4 linked regions of the Homo sapiens genome follow. The main gene of each other region encodes a partner of the protein of the gene in region 4 in a complex. Each region holds a gene or a part of one and is shown on either strand. Other genes may lie near its edges.

What was found.
Region 1: TAF11 (region 4) and TAF6 share a complex: the UniProt entries of both Homo sapiens proteins name them as parts of the TFIID basal transcription factor complex.
Region 2: TAF11 (region 4) and TAF1 share a complex: the UniProt entries of both Homo sapiens proteins name them as parts of the TFIID basal transcription factor complex.
Region 3: TAF11 (region 4) and TBP share a complex: the UniProt entries of both Homo sapiens proteins name them as parts of the TFIID basal transcription factor complex.

What each region holds. Positions count from the first base shown.
Region 1 is NC_000007.14:100,112,859-100,116,358, reverse strand, and holds part of TAF6 (transcription initiation factor TFIID subunit 6), read left to right. Parts: intron 1-60; exon of another isoform or gene 61-513; intron 514-2,090; coding exon of another isoform or gene 2,091-2,149; coding exon 2,150-2,305; intron 2,306-2,404; coding exon 2,405-2,491; intron 2,492-2,589; coding exon 2,590-2,743; intron 2,744-2,953; coding exon 2,954-3,010; intron 3,011-3,441; coding exon 3,442-3,500. UniProt on the Homo sapiens protein: The TFIID basal transcription factor complex plays a major role in the initiation of RNA polymerase II (Pol II)-dependent transcription.
Region 2 is NC_000023.11:71,372,857-71,376,356, reverse strand, and holds part of TAF1 (transcription initiation factor TFIID subunit 1), read right to left. Parts: intron 1,191-3,500; coding exon 1,071-1,190; intron 1-1,070. UniProt on the Homo sapiens protein: The TFIID basal transcription factor complex plays a major role in the initiation of RNA polymerase II (Pol II)-dependent transcription.
Region 3 is NC_000006.12:170,553,135-170,557,168, reverse strand, and holds the start of TBP (TATA-box-binding protein), read right to left. Parts: upstream 2,801-4,034; 5' UTR 2,706-2,800; intron 288-2,705; 5' UTR 140-287; coding exon 86-139; intron 1-85. Other genes in the region: PSMB1 (proteasome subunit beta type-1), read left to right, coding at 3,927-4,034. UniProt on the Homo sapiens protein: The TFIID basal transcription factor complex plays a major role in the initiation of RNA polymerase II (Pol II)-dependent transcription.
Region 4 is NC_000006.12:34,881,543-34,885,042, reverse strand, and holds part of TAF11 (transcription initiation factor TFIID subunit 11), read left to right. Parts: exon of another isoform or gene 1-1,605; coding exon of another isoform or gene 1,606-1,644; intron 1,645-1,962; coding exon 1,963-2,111; intron 2,112-3,500. UniProt on the Homo sapiens protein: The TFIID basal transcription factor complex plays a major role in the initiation of RNA polymerase II (Pol II)-dependent transcription.

The sequences.
Region 1 (3,500 bases), on a different chromosome or scaffold from region 4:
CCTGAGATGGGGTTTTGCTATGTTGCCCAGGGTGGTCAGGAATTCCTAAGCCCAAGCAGTCTTCCCACCTCACCCTCCCAAAGTGCACAGATTACAGGCATGAGCTGAGCCACTGCACCTGCCCATTATAAGGATTTCAGGTTTTACTTTATGGCAAGTGGAGAGCCATTATGAGGGTTTGAGCAAAGAAATGACAATCTGCTTTACAGTTTGACAGAAGCATTTTGGCTGCAACGTTAGGAATAGATGTAGAGAAAGGCAAGGGTAGACTCCGGTTGACATTGTTAGGAGGTTTTTGGAGTTACCCAGTGGATAGATGATGGTGACCTGGGCCAAGCAGTGGGAGCAGAGGAGTCAGGTTGGACTACCTGGTGGATTGATTGATTTTTGAGACAGAGTCTCGCTCTGTCGCCAGGCTGGAGTCCAGTGGCACGATCTTGGCTCACTGCAACCTCCACTTCCCAGGTTCAAGTGATTCTCTTGCCTCAGCCTCCCGAGTAGCTGGGACTACAGGTGCGTGCCACCACGCCAAGCTAGTTTTTGTATTTTTAGTAGAGATGGGATTTCACCATGTTGGCCAGGATGGTCTCCATCTCTTGACCTGGTGATCCGTCCGCCTCGGCCTCCCAAAGTGCTGGGATTACAGGTGTGAGCCAACGCGCCCGACCGGATTTATTTTTTTACCTTTTTTTTTTTTTTGAGACAGAGTCCATCTGTCACTGAGGCTGGAGTGCAATGGCGCAATCTCAACTCACTGCAAACTCTACTGCCGAGGCTCAAGTGATTCTCCTGCCTCAGCCTCCCAAGTAGCTGGGATTACAGGCACGCGCCACCATGCCCAGCTAATTTTTGTATTTTTAGTAGAGAAAGGGTTTTACCATGTTGCTCAGGCTGGTCTCGAACTCCTGACCTGAAGTGATCCACCCACCTTGGCCTCCCAAATTGCTGGAATTACAGACGTGAGCCACCGCACCTGGCCTACCTGGTGGATTTGATGTGAAGGCTCAGATAAAGAACAAGTGTCTGGATGGATGGCATTGCTATGAAGATAAGGAAAGCTGAGCCTGGGCCAGACACTTCGGCTCACGCCTTTAATTCCAACACTTTGAGAGGCCAACGCTGGAGGATTGCTTGAGCCCAAAACTTCAAAGTGGTGGGATTGAAGCCCTGAGGTGTAACAGAAAAAGATAAAAATCTGGGCTGGGCCTGGTGGCTCAGGCCTGTAATTCCAACACTTTGGGAGGCCGAAGCAGGAGGACTGCGTGAGCCCAGCAGTTCAAGACCAGCCTGGACAACATAGTGAGACTCTGTCTCTGCCCCTGCCCCTGCAAAAAATTGGCTGTGTGTAGTGGTACACACCTATAGTCCCAGCTACTTGGGAGGCTGAGGTGTGAGGATTGCTTGAGCCTAGGAGCTCCTGGGCTCTATCAGTTTTCCCACCTCTGCCTCCTGAGTAGCTAGAACAACAGCCCTGTGCCTGCATACCCAGCTAATTTTTGTATTTTTTGTACAGATGGGGTCTCACTGTGTTGTCCAGGCTGGTCGTGAACTGCTGGGCTCAAGCGATCCTCCTACCTTGGGCTCCCAGAGTGTTGGAATTACAGGCATGAGCCACTAGGCCCAGTCCAGATTTTTTTTTTTTTTTTCCTGAGACGGAGTCACCCTGGCTGGAGTGCAGTGGCGTGATCTCGGCTCACTGCAACCTCTGCCCTCTGGTTTCAAGTGATTCTCGTGCCTTAGTCTCCCTAGTAGCTGGGATTACAGGTGTGCACTACCACGCCCTGCTAATTTTTGTATTTTTAGTAGAGATGGGGTTTCTCCATGTTGGCCAGGCTGGTCTCGAATTCCTGACCTCAAGTGATCCGCCCGCCTCGTCCTCCCAAAGTGCTGGTGGGATTACAGGCGTGAGCCACTGAACCTGGCCCCAGCCCAGATTTGTATCTTTCTCTGTTACACCTCAGGGCTGACTCACGTGGGGATGGACATAAGACACTCGGAGTTCCTCCCCTGTCTCCACTGTCCTCCCTTTGTTGGCCCTCTCCCTGTGTCTCACGTTTCTTTTTCTTCTGCCTGCCCCGTTCCTCTGCCAGGGTCTCCGTCTCTCCACCGGGGGCTTCATCCTTCCAGGGAGGAGAAGAGGGACTCCAGAATGGCTGAGGAGAAGAAGCTGAAGCTTAGCAACACTGTGCTGCCCTCGGAGTCCATGAAGGTGGTGGCTGAATCCATGGGCATCGCCCAGATTCAGGAGGAGACCTGCCAGCTGCTAACGGATGAGGTCAGCTACCGCATCAAAGAGATCGCACAGGTGACCCGGCCCTTCTGTCCAGCTCTACATTGGGTCCATGTCACCCAGGGCCCCGTCCTTAGGATTTTGGGCTGATGTCTGTTCTGTCACCGACCCCAGGATGCCTTGAAGTTCATGCACATGGGGAAGCGGCAGAAGCTCACCACCAGTGACATTGACTACGCCTTGAAGCTAAAGAATGTCGAGGTGATTTGGGGAGACAGGCGGGGGGGGGGTGAGACGCCATCCTTCAGCCAGGTCTCCTCCGGCTCCCTTCTTACCCATGCCCCTCTCTCCTGCCACAGCCACTCTATGGCTTCCACGCCCAGGAGTTCATTCCTTTCCGCTTCGCCTCTGGTGGGGGCCGGGAGCTTTACTTCTATGAGGAGAAGGAGGTTGATCTGAGCGACATCATCAATACCCCTCTGCCCCGGGTGCCCCTGGACGTCTGCCTCAAAGGTTGGGGGAGGGGAGAGCAGGGTGGCAGGGAGGAGGGAAAGGAGGACAGATGTGTGTAGGTGTGAGGAGCCTCACAATAGAAGAAAAGCTCAGTGTGAGATCCCTGGTGAGTTGCAAGGGGAGCAGGAGTGGAAACACGCTTCCATAGCATGGGGCAACTCCCCAATGTCCATGCGTGGCAATTCACCTTGACACCTGCCTTCCTTGCAGCTCATTGGCTGAGCATCGAGGGCTGCCAGCCAGCTATCCCCGAGAACCCGCCCCCAGGTAACCTCCATGCCCCACCCTCTGGGTCTCTGGGTCCCTTTCCCCTTCCTTCCACCTTTTTTTTTTGAGACAGAGTCTCACTCTGTTGCCTGTGCTGGAGTGCAGGAGTGCTGGAGTGCAGTGGCTCAATCTTGGCTCACTGCAAACCTGTGCCTCCTGGGTTCACGCGATTCTTGTGTCTCAGCCTCCTGAGTAGCTGGGACTACAAGCACACACCACCACGCCCGGCTAATTTTTTGTAATTTTAGTAGACACGAGGTTTCACCATGTTGGCCAGGCTGGTCTCGAACTTCTGACCTGAGGTGATCCACCCGCCTTGGCCTCCCAAAGTGCTGGGATTACAGGCATGAGCCACCGCATCCGGCCTCCTCCCACCTTTTACTTTTCTACTATGCTCATCACCCCTCCCGCTGTGCCTGCTTTCCCACCAGCTCCCAAAGAGCAACAGAAGGCTGAAGCCACAGAACCCCTGAAGTCAGCCAAGCCAGGC
Region 2 (3,500 bases), on a different chromosome or scaffold from region 4:
CAATGTTGTGACCAATAGCAAAACTATGTAATACTTTATACCACTCAGGTAGTCCTAGTTCAGAGACTCATGAGCTGGAGAATTTTTTTAAGCCCACGGGACAACATTAAGGTTCTTTGGCATAAATAAGATCTATAAAACAAAGTTAACAGCTGACATTTAGCAGACTGTTAAAAGAAATGGCTTAAAACTCCAACAGGAAGAATTTAGGTTAATACAAGCCTCAAAATACAGGAGGTCAAAAACACTGCTCTTCCCCAGTTTTCAAGCCTAGGACAGTTACTGTTATAGGAATAGGTAAGATAAACACTGAAGACTCTACTAGCCTTTGAAATCTCTGAATATCTGGTAGTTGACACTATCTGATTTATCAACATTCCAGGGCACCTTCCTAATTTAACCACTTCATTTAAAATAAAGCCATCTAAACAAGTAGTTTCCAAATACCAGTATACAGATCAGTTGTATCATAAATTACTTAAGAAACTCTTTAAGATTCCCGGGTTCGGCAGGGAGCAGTGGCTCACGCCTGTAATCCCAGCACTTTGGAAGACCAAGGCGAGCGGATCACTTGAGGTCAGGAGTTCCAGCCCCTACTCTGGAGGCTGAGGCATGAGAATCACTTGAACCCGGGAGGCGGAGGTTGCAGTGAGCCAAGATCGTGCTACTGCACTCCAACCTGCACAACACAGCAAGACTCTTTCTCAAAAAAATTTTAATTAATTTAATTAAATTCCTGGACTCTACCCAAGATCTTCTGAATCAGGCTCAAGGGGTGAAAGTCAGGTATTTGTTTTTTTTTTTTAAAGATTCTAAGTGATTCTGATGGGTAGCCAGATTTGAGAACCACTGACTAAACTACTATTTCTTGAGCACATGTTAAAATACTGTTGCCAAATGTTTTAAAAGTAAAACTTCCCTTTAATACTAAAATTTGCGATTGTATGAATTATTTCTAGAAGTTTTGTCCCTTCATATAAGCTTAAGTTTGTCCCTTATGTGTGTGCCACAAGCCTGGACTTAGGAATGAAAACTTGCTCCTCAGACAAAAGTAGACAATCTCTACTTACCACCAGTAATAGAATCCTGGTCCTTATCCTTCTTCATTGGTCCCGGGGGTGGAGGTGGAGGAGGCATCAACTTGCAATCAATGTCTTCACAATCAGCATCATAGTCATCTTCATCATAATCTAATAAAACCAAGAAGGTGATCTCCTCAATATCCAAAATATTATACAACCGCCTTAAGCTTCCTTGCCACTCAATTTTTTTTTTTTTTTTGAGACAGAGTCTTGCTCTGTCGCCCAGGCTGGAGTGCAGCGGTGCAATCTCAGCTGACTGCAACCTCCACCTCCCGAGTTCTCCTGCCTCAGCCTCCTGAGTAGCTGGGATTACAGGAATGTGCCACCACGCCCAGCTAATTTTTGTATTTTTAGTAGAGACGGGGTTTCTCCATGTCGGTCGGGCTGGTCTCGAACTCCTGACCTTGTGATCCACCTGCCTCAGCCTCCCAAAGTACTGGGATTACAGGGCCACTCAATAATTTAAAGCACCACATGAAACACTATGCATATCCCTTAAGAACACACAAGTGAAAAAAGCAAGGTGAGGGCCAGGCATGATGGCTCACGCCTGTAATCCCAGCACTTTGGGAGGCCAAGATGGGCAGATCACTTGAGCCCAGAATTTCAAGACCAGCCTAAACAACATGGAGAAACCCCATCTCTACAAAAAATACAAAAATTAGCTAGGCGTGGTGGCACACGCCTGTAGTACCAGCTACTCAGGAGGCTGAGGTCGGGAGACAGTTTGAGCCCAGGAGGTCAAGGCTTTGATGAGCAGTAATCGTGTGACAGAGCAAGACCATGCCTCAAAATATTTTACATATCTATCTGAAACATAGCTTTAGCCTTCAGAAAGAGATGACATCACGGTGCAAGTCAATTGCTATAACATATATAATATCTCACACAAGATATGATGGCTGGGCATGGTGGCTCACGCCAGCACTCTGGGAGGCTGAGGCGGGCAGATCACCTGAGGTCAGGAGTTCAGAGACCAGCCTGGCCAACATGACAAAACCCCATCTCTGTCAAAAATACAAAAACTAGCCAGGAGTGGTGGCATGTGCCTGTAATCCCAGCTACTTGGGAGGCTGAGGCACAAGAAGCACTTGAACCGGGAGGTGAAGGTTGCAGTAAGCCGAGATTGCGCCACTGCACTCCAGCCTGGGCGACACAGTGAAACTGTCTCAAAAAAAAAAAAGAAAGAAAGAAAAGAAAAAATCATACAACATATGAAAGCGTTTCCAAGAGCTGCTTGAAACATTTGCTCCTTTCCTGACCATATCTTTTTTAGAATTTTCATACTGGGCCAGGCACAGTGGCTCGCACCTGTAATCCCAGCACTTTGGGAATCTTCTCCCTCTGTCAGTTTCCCTTAAGACTGGTCTTTCATCTCTCAAATGAGAGATGACACACTTTTTCTATCTGTCATCTGCAGTTTATTACTCTTTTCACTGCCCCTTAACCATTGGCATCACTCAAGAATTCGTCCTAAAGACTCTGCTTTTATTCCCCTATACGTTCCCTATTCCCTCTCTCAAGAATCACCTTCACCTAGATTAAACCCAAATCTACATATGCGGCCCTAATTTACCTCCTCTACAACTCCACGACTCTTCTGCTTCCTAAGGAAACTTTCTACTCAGATATTTAACAGCTGTACCTTATAAAACACTGAAATATCCTTTATCTCTTTTAAATTCCCTATCAACATCACATCCATATGCATTTTCCCAGCTTATGGCTTTAGTCCACTGTCTCCTTCATCAATCTCATAACCCCCAATATACATTTATCCAATTGATCATTACAAATAGTAAGTATAGGGCCAGTGAGGTGGCTCACACCTGTAATCCCAGCACTTTGGGAGGCTGAGGCGAGCGGATTGCCTGAGCTCAGGAGTTCAAGACCAGCCTAGGCAACATGGTGCAACTCAGTCTCCACTAAAATTCAAAAAATTAGCTGGGAGAGGTGGCACGGGCCTGTAGTCCCAGCTACTCAGGAGGCTGAGGCAGGAGAAATGCTTGAACCGGGGAGGCAGAGGTTACAGTGAACCGAGATTGCGCCACTGCACTCCAGCCTGGGCAACACAGTAAGATTCTGTCTCAAAAAAAAAAAAAAAAAAGTGGCCAGGCACAGAGGCTCACGCCTGTAATCCCAGCACTTTGGGAGGCTGAGGTGGGTGGATCACGAGGTCAGGAGATCGAGACCACCCTGGCTAACACTGTGAAACCCCGTCTCTACTAAAAATACAAAAAATTAGCCTGGCCTGGTGGTGGGTGCCTGTAGTCCCAGCTACTCCGGAGACTGAGGCCGGATAATGGCGTAAACCTGGGAGGCGGAGCTTGCAGTGAGCTGAGATCGCGCCACTGCACTCCAGCCTGGGTGACAGAGCGAGACTCTGTCTCAAACAAACAAACAAAAAAGTAAGTATAG
Region 3 (4,034 bases), about 140 Mb from region 4:
ATTAAATGCCCTTCCTTGCCTTTTGATACCATCTCTTGCAGTTCAGATTTCCGCCCTCCCTATTCTCTCCCTCCTGCTATATTACCTGAGGGGAGGCCAAGCCCTGAGCGTAAGGTGGCAGGCTGTTGTTCTGATCCATGATGTTCACTTTCTTCTTGGCAAACCAGAAACCCTTGCGCTGGAACTCGTCTCACTATTCAATTTTTTCCTAGAGCATCTCCAGCACACTCTTCTCAGCAACTTCCTCAATTCCTTGGGTTATCTTCACACGCCAAGAAACAGTGATGCTGCTTTGGAAAAAAGTCTAAAGTTTAATTTAAGGATCCAGGTAACCTGTACAGTCCTATAAGCCAGTTCTATGGCTATACAAAACACAAACATGAAAACCAATGAAGCTATTTTGGAATACATTTGTTTTTACCTTATAATCCTAAAGTTTTATTCCTTCCATGTTTCCGGCGATTGCATGTAAAATCGCCAACAAAACAAAAATCATTTTGTTACATGTTTAAATAATCGGAAAATGCTCAAAATCGAGCTGTCATAACCAGCATTAAAAACTTTTGAGGAAAAACACCTAGAGAAAAATAATTCCTAAGCAAAATGTAATATCAGAGCAGAATATTCACTAAGCACTGTATACACAGCACTGTTAGGCAAAGTTTAGATCTTTAAATATTCCAATTTTACATCCTCTACAATGTCTTGGGCAAAAAATTAAGTAAATATCAAATTCAATCCAATATACTTCAGAGTGATCATTTATCAAGCTCCTACTGTAATGAAACTGTTAAAAAAAAAAAAGCCGCACAAAGATAAAGCCCTGAATTTTTATAAATGTAATAACCTTACCTCTTTAGAACACATTAATGCAAACTGTGCCTGTTATCTGACTTTTCTTAAATCATCATCGCTTTACTCACTACACATCTGAAATGAGTTTATAACAACATATTCTCACATAGAACTTAGAGGTCTCAAAGTTACAAATTATATGTCCAAAGATCCTTCAGGCATATGCACTTCAAGCATGTGCTGGTACAGAACAGACACTCAGATATTTGCTGAATGTATGAAAGACTCTGACGATCACTTTGAAAGGGCAAAGGCCCCCAAAGACTATCTATCCTACATACTCATCACTGAAAAACAGACCAAAAAAGAAAGCAAGCTCTGCTTCTGGAAATAAATATATCAGAGATATTTTTTAAAATATACTTTTTTTTTGACAGTTATCCTATAATAACAATAACAGAAGTCCTGCAGATGAGGATATAAAGATAGGAGGATATAGTCCTTGGCATCAAAGTGTTCAATATGAAGGGTATGCAAATAACTACTGTAAAACATAGTATTATAACAGCAGGTATGGTCTAAGCTAAGTTCCTTGAATGCAGAAACCAGCCTACATGTCTTTGTGATCTCTGCATCTAGCACTATGCCTGGAATACAGTATGTGATCATGAATGAGCCCATATACACCCCTGGAAGAGAAGACAATATAGACTAACAGCCAATCACTGTGAAGAGAGCGCAGTGTTTTCACAAAGCAGGGACCATCTAACTTGGGTCTCACAAGGTGAGTAGGAATTTACACATCAGGGCTTCAGACAAAAGAGAAATCAAGCAGAAAGAGACAGATTGAAAAAGCATGCAGTATGCAGGCAACAAGCTTAGTATGACTGTATAGAAGGTCACTGCAGCAGATGAGACAGCACATATTGGTGGGCTCATACTATCAGGAGTTTTCAATGTTATTGCATAGGCAATAATAACAGTTATGGAATTTCGGAAGTGCAGTATGAACAGATCTAATTTGGCAAGACTAGATGAATTTGAGAGGAGTAAAACTGGAGGACGGAAGTTTCGTTTCAGGAATCTAAGGTTGAGGCAAGAGATAATGACGGCAGGATTTAAAGCCATTATAAGTATGATTAGAGATTTATCCAGGACCTTCGGTGGCTTCAGGCCACTTTTTGCAAGTAAGTCTACAGAAGAAACCGCACAGTGATTACTGCACTAATTTATCCTCAGAAAAGAGTTGTTTGCTGGGTATCTTCATCTCCTGGAAATTGAAACATCAAATCCGATATTTTTTGGAGGCAATCAAATTAATTCTGCATAGCCTTCTAGTGTCTGTATAACTAAATGAAGCACAGTCTTTTCACAGAAAAGTCTACCTAGAGATTTGGAAAACCATGATGGCCTGAACCGAGAGACGGGAGACCCTGCAAATAAAGTGGTGTGTATTATATCTTAAGCGCTACCGTGCCCGCTGTCTCAGGCTTCTGACAAAATATTTAAGTCTCAATGTTGGCAGCAAAACAGGCGGGCACAGATCTGGGTGAATCTGCTTCTAACATGGAGAAGAAGCGGATGGCAGGACAGGGCAGGGTAAACTTAGGGTCTTCGATGCAAGGGACTGTCCTGTCCCGCCTGCCGCCGCCCAGCCAGCCAGTAGTACCCTGAGCCCCACAATCGTACGATGGGAAGCTGCCTGCGAAACACAGCAGAGTAGGGCACCAGGCGGGAGTGGCGGCCGAGTGGCCGTTACAGGCCGGAACGGCGGCAGCACGAAAGGGAGGAACGTCCCCCGAGGGGCCTGCACGCGCGCCAATTCCTAGTCTCTTCCCCACCATTGCCCCCAGGCCTCAGTGCAGTGGTGGCCTTCGCCCGAACCGTCAGAAAAGAGTACAATCTGTTACCTGGGTCACTGCAAAGATCACTATGGGCCAGCGGAAGCGAAGTTAAACAGCCGGCGGCCCAGGCGCCCGCCACAGCGAACCTGCCCGACCTCACTGAACCCCTGGCGCGCGTTGATAATGTCACTTCCGCCAGTTCTGCCCTCGGCTTCAGCGAGTTGCTCCCACTAGGGCCGAGGCCATGAGAAGTGTGAGCATAGGTCACTTCCTGTGTTTCCATAGGTAAGGAGGGGCGAAGCTCTTGAGGAGTTCCGGGGCGGGGCCGCCGTGCCACAGCCATCTCTAATTGGCCCTTGCTGGACGTAGGAAAGATCGATTTTTAAATGGCGTGTGTGTGTATATGTGTGAGTGTGTTTTGTTGTTGTTGTTGTTGTTGTTTAAAGCAACTAGCGGCGTTACCTTCGACAAGTTACCTGACCTCTCCCCCGCATTTTTTTTCTGTAAAATTGAATAATGATAACAGTGCTTACCCTTGGGCTGTCGGGAGATTGACAGAGATTGACAGAATCAGTGCCTGAGCAGTGCTTGGCACTCAGTAAGCGCGTCCTCCTTACCTGTCAGCAAGAACGCTAGCTGATCTTCAAGCGTGTAGAATGACAAGGAACACTAAGCAAAACAAACAGCTTGTGTTTACACATGCATTTATATTCAGTTCTGCCACTCCCAGTTCATGCACTGTTGTCACATGGCTCTTTCCGCAGTTGTTTCTTAGTGGGACTTCAGCACGCCTTGATTTTCCCTTCTGTAGTTCATTGTGGCGTAATCATATGTTATACTGCTTGTTTTCTTTGTACTTTTTATTATCAGTGAGGTTGTGAGCTCTTTAAGGATAGGAAATGTTATATACATTTTTTATTAGCCAGGACAATTAACGTTCCCACCGTTATTCGAGTTGCCGTTGCGCCATAGTTCTGACAATTTTTTTGTATGGTCAGACTTAAATTTTTGTCCATTGGGGTGAATTCCAATGTTTTCTTCGAGGGGGAAAAAAACAAAAAACAAACAAAAAAAACCCTTTACATCCCTGTCAGCGCTTTTTGGAATGGGCGGGATTCAACTACCAAAGGGACAAGCCGCCGTGCAGCCCTCCAGGAGCAACGACTAGCGTGAGATAGAGAGGCCGGGAGCGAACTTCAGGAGAAGCCGGAAGTGGCGTAACGTCCGGTCAAGGCAGCCATCTCGCCGTGAGACAGCAAGTGTCGGATCCGCAGGCGCAGCCGTGCGATGTTGTCCTCTACAGCCATGTATTCGGCTCCTGGCAGAGACTTGGGGATGGAACCGCACAGAGCCGCGGGCCCTTTGCAGCTGCGATTTTCGCCCTACGTTTTCAAC
Region 4 (3,500 bases):
ACTAATGAATTAGCACATTAAAAAACATAAATGATAAAATTAAAACATTATTTAAAATGTAAATGTATAACATTACAAAATATGAAAGGCTATAGGCACTAATATGGAGATCTTTAAAGTTATAAAGACATTTAATGTTCAAGTTTAGGCCAAATAAATGTGAAAATCTGAGAAAAATAGGTGATTTTTTAAAGGAAAATACAAACCACCAAACTTGAAGCACAGTTAGAAAACTTGTATAAATCAGTAACTAAAAAGAAATTGAAAAGATTGTCAAAGATAGACTACCTTCATCCCACCTATTCCCATATTCCTGTATGAGTTTAAATTTGAATTCCTCTTTAGGGACAAGTTAAATCTCATTAATGAGTTTTGTAGTATACTTAAGATTCTACATTAAGTCAGAGGGGGTGAAGTTTGGATTTGATTTTTATTATTAAACAGCCAGTTTTTTAAGTTCAGGGGTACATGTGCAGGATGTGCAGGTTTTGTTACATAAGTAAATGTGTGTCATAGGGGTTTGTTGTATAGATTATTTCATCACCCAGGTATTAAGCCTAGTGTCCCTTAGTTATTTTTCCTGATCCTTTCCCTCCTGCCACCCTTCATCCTTCCATATACCCTTCACCCTTCCATATACCCCAGTGTGTGTTCCCCTCTATGTGTCCGTGTGCTGTCATCATTTAGTTCCCACTTATTAGTGAGAACATGCAGTATTTGGTTTTCTGTTCCTACATTAGTTTGCTAAAGATAATGGTCTCCAGCTCCATCCATGTCCCTGCAAAGGACATGATCTCCTTTTTTATGGCTGTATAGTATTTCATGGTGTATACTGGAAAATACATTTTCTTTATCCAGTCTACCATTGATGGGCATTTAGGTTGATTCCATGTCTTTGCTATTGTGAATAGCACTGCAATGAACATAAGTGTGGATGTGTCTTTATAATAGAACAATTTATATTCCTTTGGGTATATACCCAGTAATGGGATTGCTGGGTCAAATGGTAATTCTGTCTTTAGGTCTTTGAGGAATTGTCACACTGCCTTCCTCAATGGTGAACTGATTTATACTCCAACCAAGAGTTTAAAAGCTTTCCTTTGCCTCCACAACCTTGCCAGTATCTGTTATTTTTTGACTTTTGAATAATAGCCATTCTGACTGATATGAGATGGTATCTCATTATGGTTTTGATTTGCATTTCTCTAATCAGTGAAGCTGACCTTTTTTTCACATGATTGTTGGCCACAGGTATGTCTTGTTTTGAGAAGTGTCTTTGCCTACTTTTAAGTGGGGTTTGAACAGGCATTTATTAAACATCCAGCATAAGTAAAATTGCATTAAATGCTGATGGGGGGGAGATATAAATAATAAGAGACAAACCTATCTTCAAAAAGACTAGTAATGTGAAATAAACATTTGCATGAAACAGTAGGATTGAAGAATAAGAACAAAAGAGCACTACGTGTGAGAAGCTCACTTGAAAGTCCCAAATTGAAATAAACACTGTTTTGATGAGAAGGGGCCTCCTTTTTAATATTCTTTCCATGTGGAATCATCAGCAGTAAAGAGATCTATAGATCTGGAAGCAGAAGAGCTGGCTGGATGGAGGGGACTTTGCTGACATCCCCTCTGAAAAATAAGGTCAGAAGAGTGGGCCCGGGGGAGGGTGATTTTCATGATCCATGGCATTTCATTACCCTTGTAAACAGATACTGGAGCTGTGCTCATAGCCAAACTGGAAAACTAGATTATTTAGCAGGTTTTCTTTCCATAGCTGAGCCATAATCTTCCCTTAGGAGAGATACTGTATCTTATCCTTGATGGTACAGTCAGTGCCTAGAACTGAAAAACTACTCAATAAATGGATTTGTTGTTTTGTGATAAGGATGATGTCTTCTTACTTTGCCCAAGCCTGGAAAGTAGGCCAAATATATAATAGAGTTTCTTTCATCTTCCCAGCTCGAGAGTCAGGATGTCTCAGATTTAACAACAGTTGAAAGGGAAGACTCATCATTACTTAATCCTGCAGCCAAAAAACTGAAAATAGATACCAAAGAAAAGAAAGAGAAAAAGCAGAAAGTAGATGAAGATGAGATTCAGAAGATGCAGTAAGTCACTTTCTTATCATTCCCCATTTCGAGGCTCTCACTTGACCACACAAATTTAATAAATTTTTCTTGGTGTTTAAATTTTCTTTTATAAACTCAAAAGAAAATAAAACGATTAATACATTATGGCTGGGCATGGTGGCTCACGCCTGTAATCCCAACACTTTAGAAGGCCAAGGTGGGAGGATTTCTTGAGGCCTAAGTTTGAGACCAGCCTGGGCAACATAGTGAAACCCTTTCTCTAATGTTATGTTATGTTATGTTTTTTTTTTTATTTTTTATTTTTTTGAGATAGAGTCTCACTGTGTCGCCCAGGCTGGAGTGCAATGGTGTGATCTCGGCTCACTGCAGCCTCCACATCCTGAGTTCAAACGATTCTCATGCCTCAGCCTCCCGAGTAGCTGGGACTACAGGCATGCACCGCCATGCCCAGCTAATTTTTGTATTTTTAGTAGAGACAGGGTTTCACTATGTTGGCCAGGCTGGTCTTGAACTCATGACCTCACGTGATCTGCCCGCCTCGGCCTCCCAAAGTGCTAGGATTACAGGCATGAGCCACTGTGCCCGGCCTCTATTTAAAATTTTTTTTTTTTGAGACAGAGTTTCGCTCTCGTTGCTCAGGCTGGAGTGCGGTGGTGCAATCTCTGCTCACTGCAACCTCCGCCTTCTGGTTTCGAGCGATTCTCCTGCCTCAGCCTCCCAGGTAGCTGGGACTACAGGCTCCTGCCACCATGCCTGGCTAATTTTTGTATTTTTAGTAGATACAGGTTTTTGCCATGTTGGCCAGGCGGGTCTCGAACTCCTGACTTCGTGATCCGCCCGCCTCAGCCTCCCAAAATGCTGGGATTACAGGTGTGAGCCACTGTGCCTGGCCAAAAACAATTTTTTCAAATAATTATGTTACAGCATAGAAAATATAAATAGATAAAAAGAAGGCCGAGATCGGTGGCTCACACCTGTAATCCCAGCACTTTGGGAGGCTGAGGCGGGTGGATCACTTGAGGTCAGGAGTTTGAGACCAGCCTGGCCAACATGGTGAAACCCCGTCTCTACTAAAATTACAAAAAATTAGCCAGGTGTCGTGGTGGGTGCCTGTAGTCCCAGCTACTCGGGAGGCTGAGGTAGGAGAATTACTTGAACCCAGGAGGCAGAGGTTGCAGTGAGCCAAGACTGCGCCACTGCACTCCAGCCTGGGCGATAGAGCCAGATGCTGTCTCAAAAAAAATAAATAGATAAGAAGAAAAAATAATTACCTTACCACAGAGATATATCCTGCTTATAAGTTTCAAGATAGTTTCTATACATATATATCTATAAATTTTTTTTTCCACAAATGTCAAATACTGTTTTGTAGCCTATTTTTCACATTAGATATGGTGAATGTTTTCC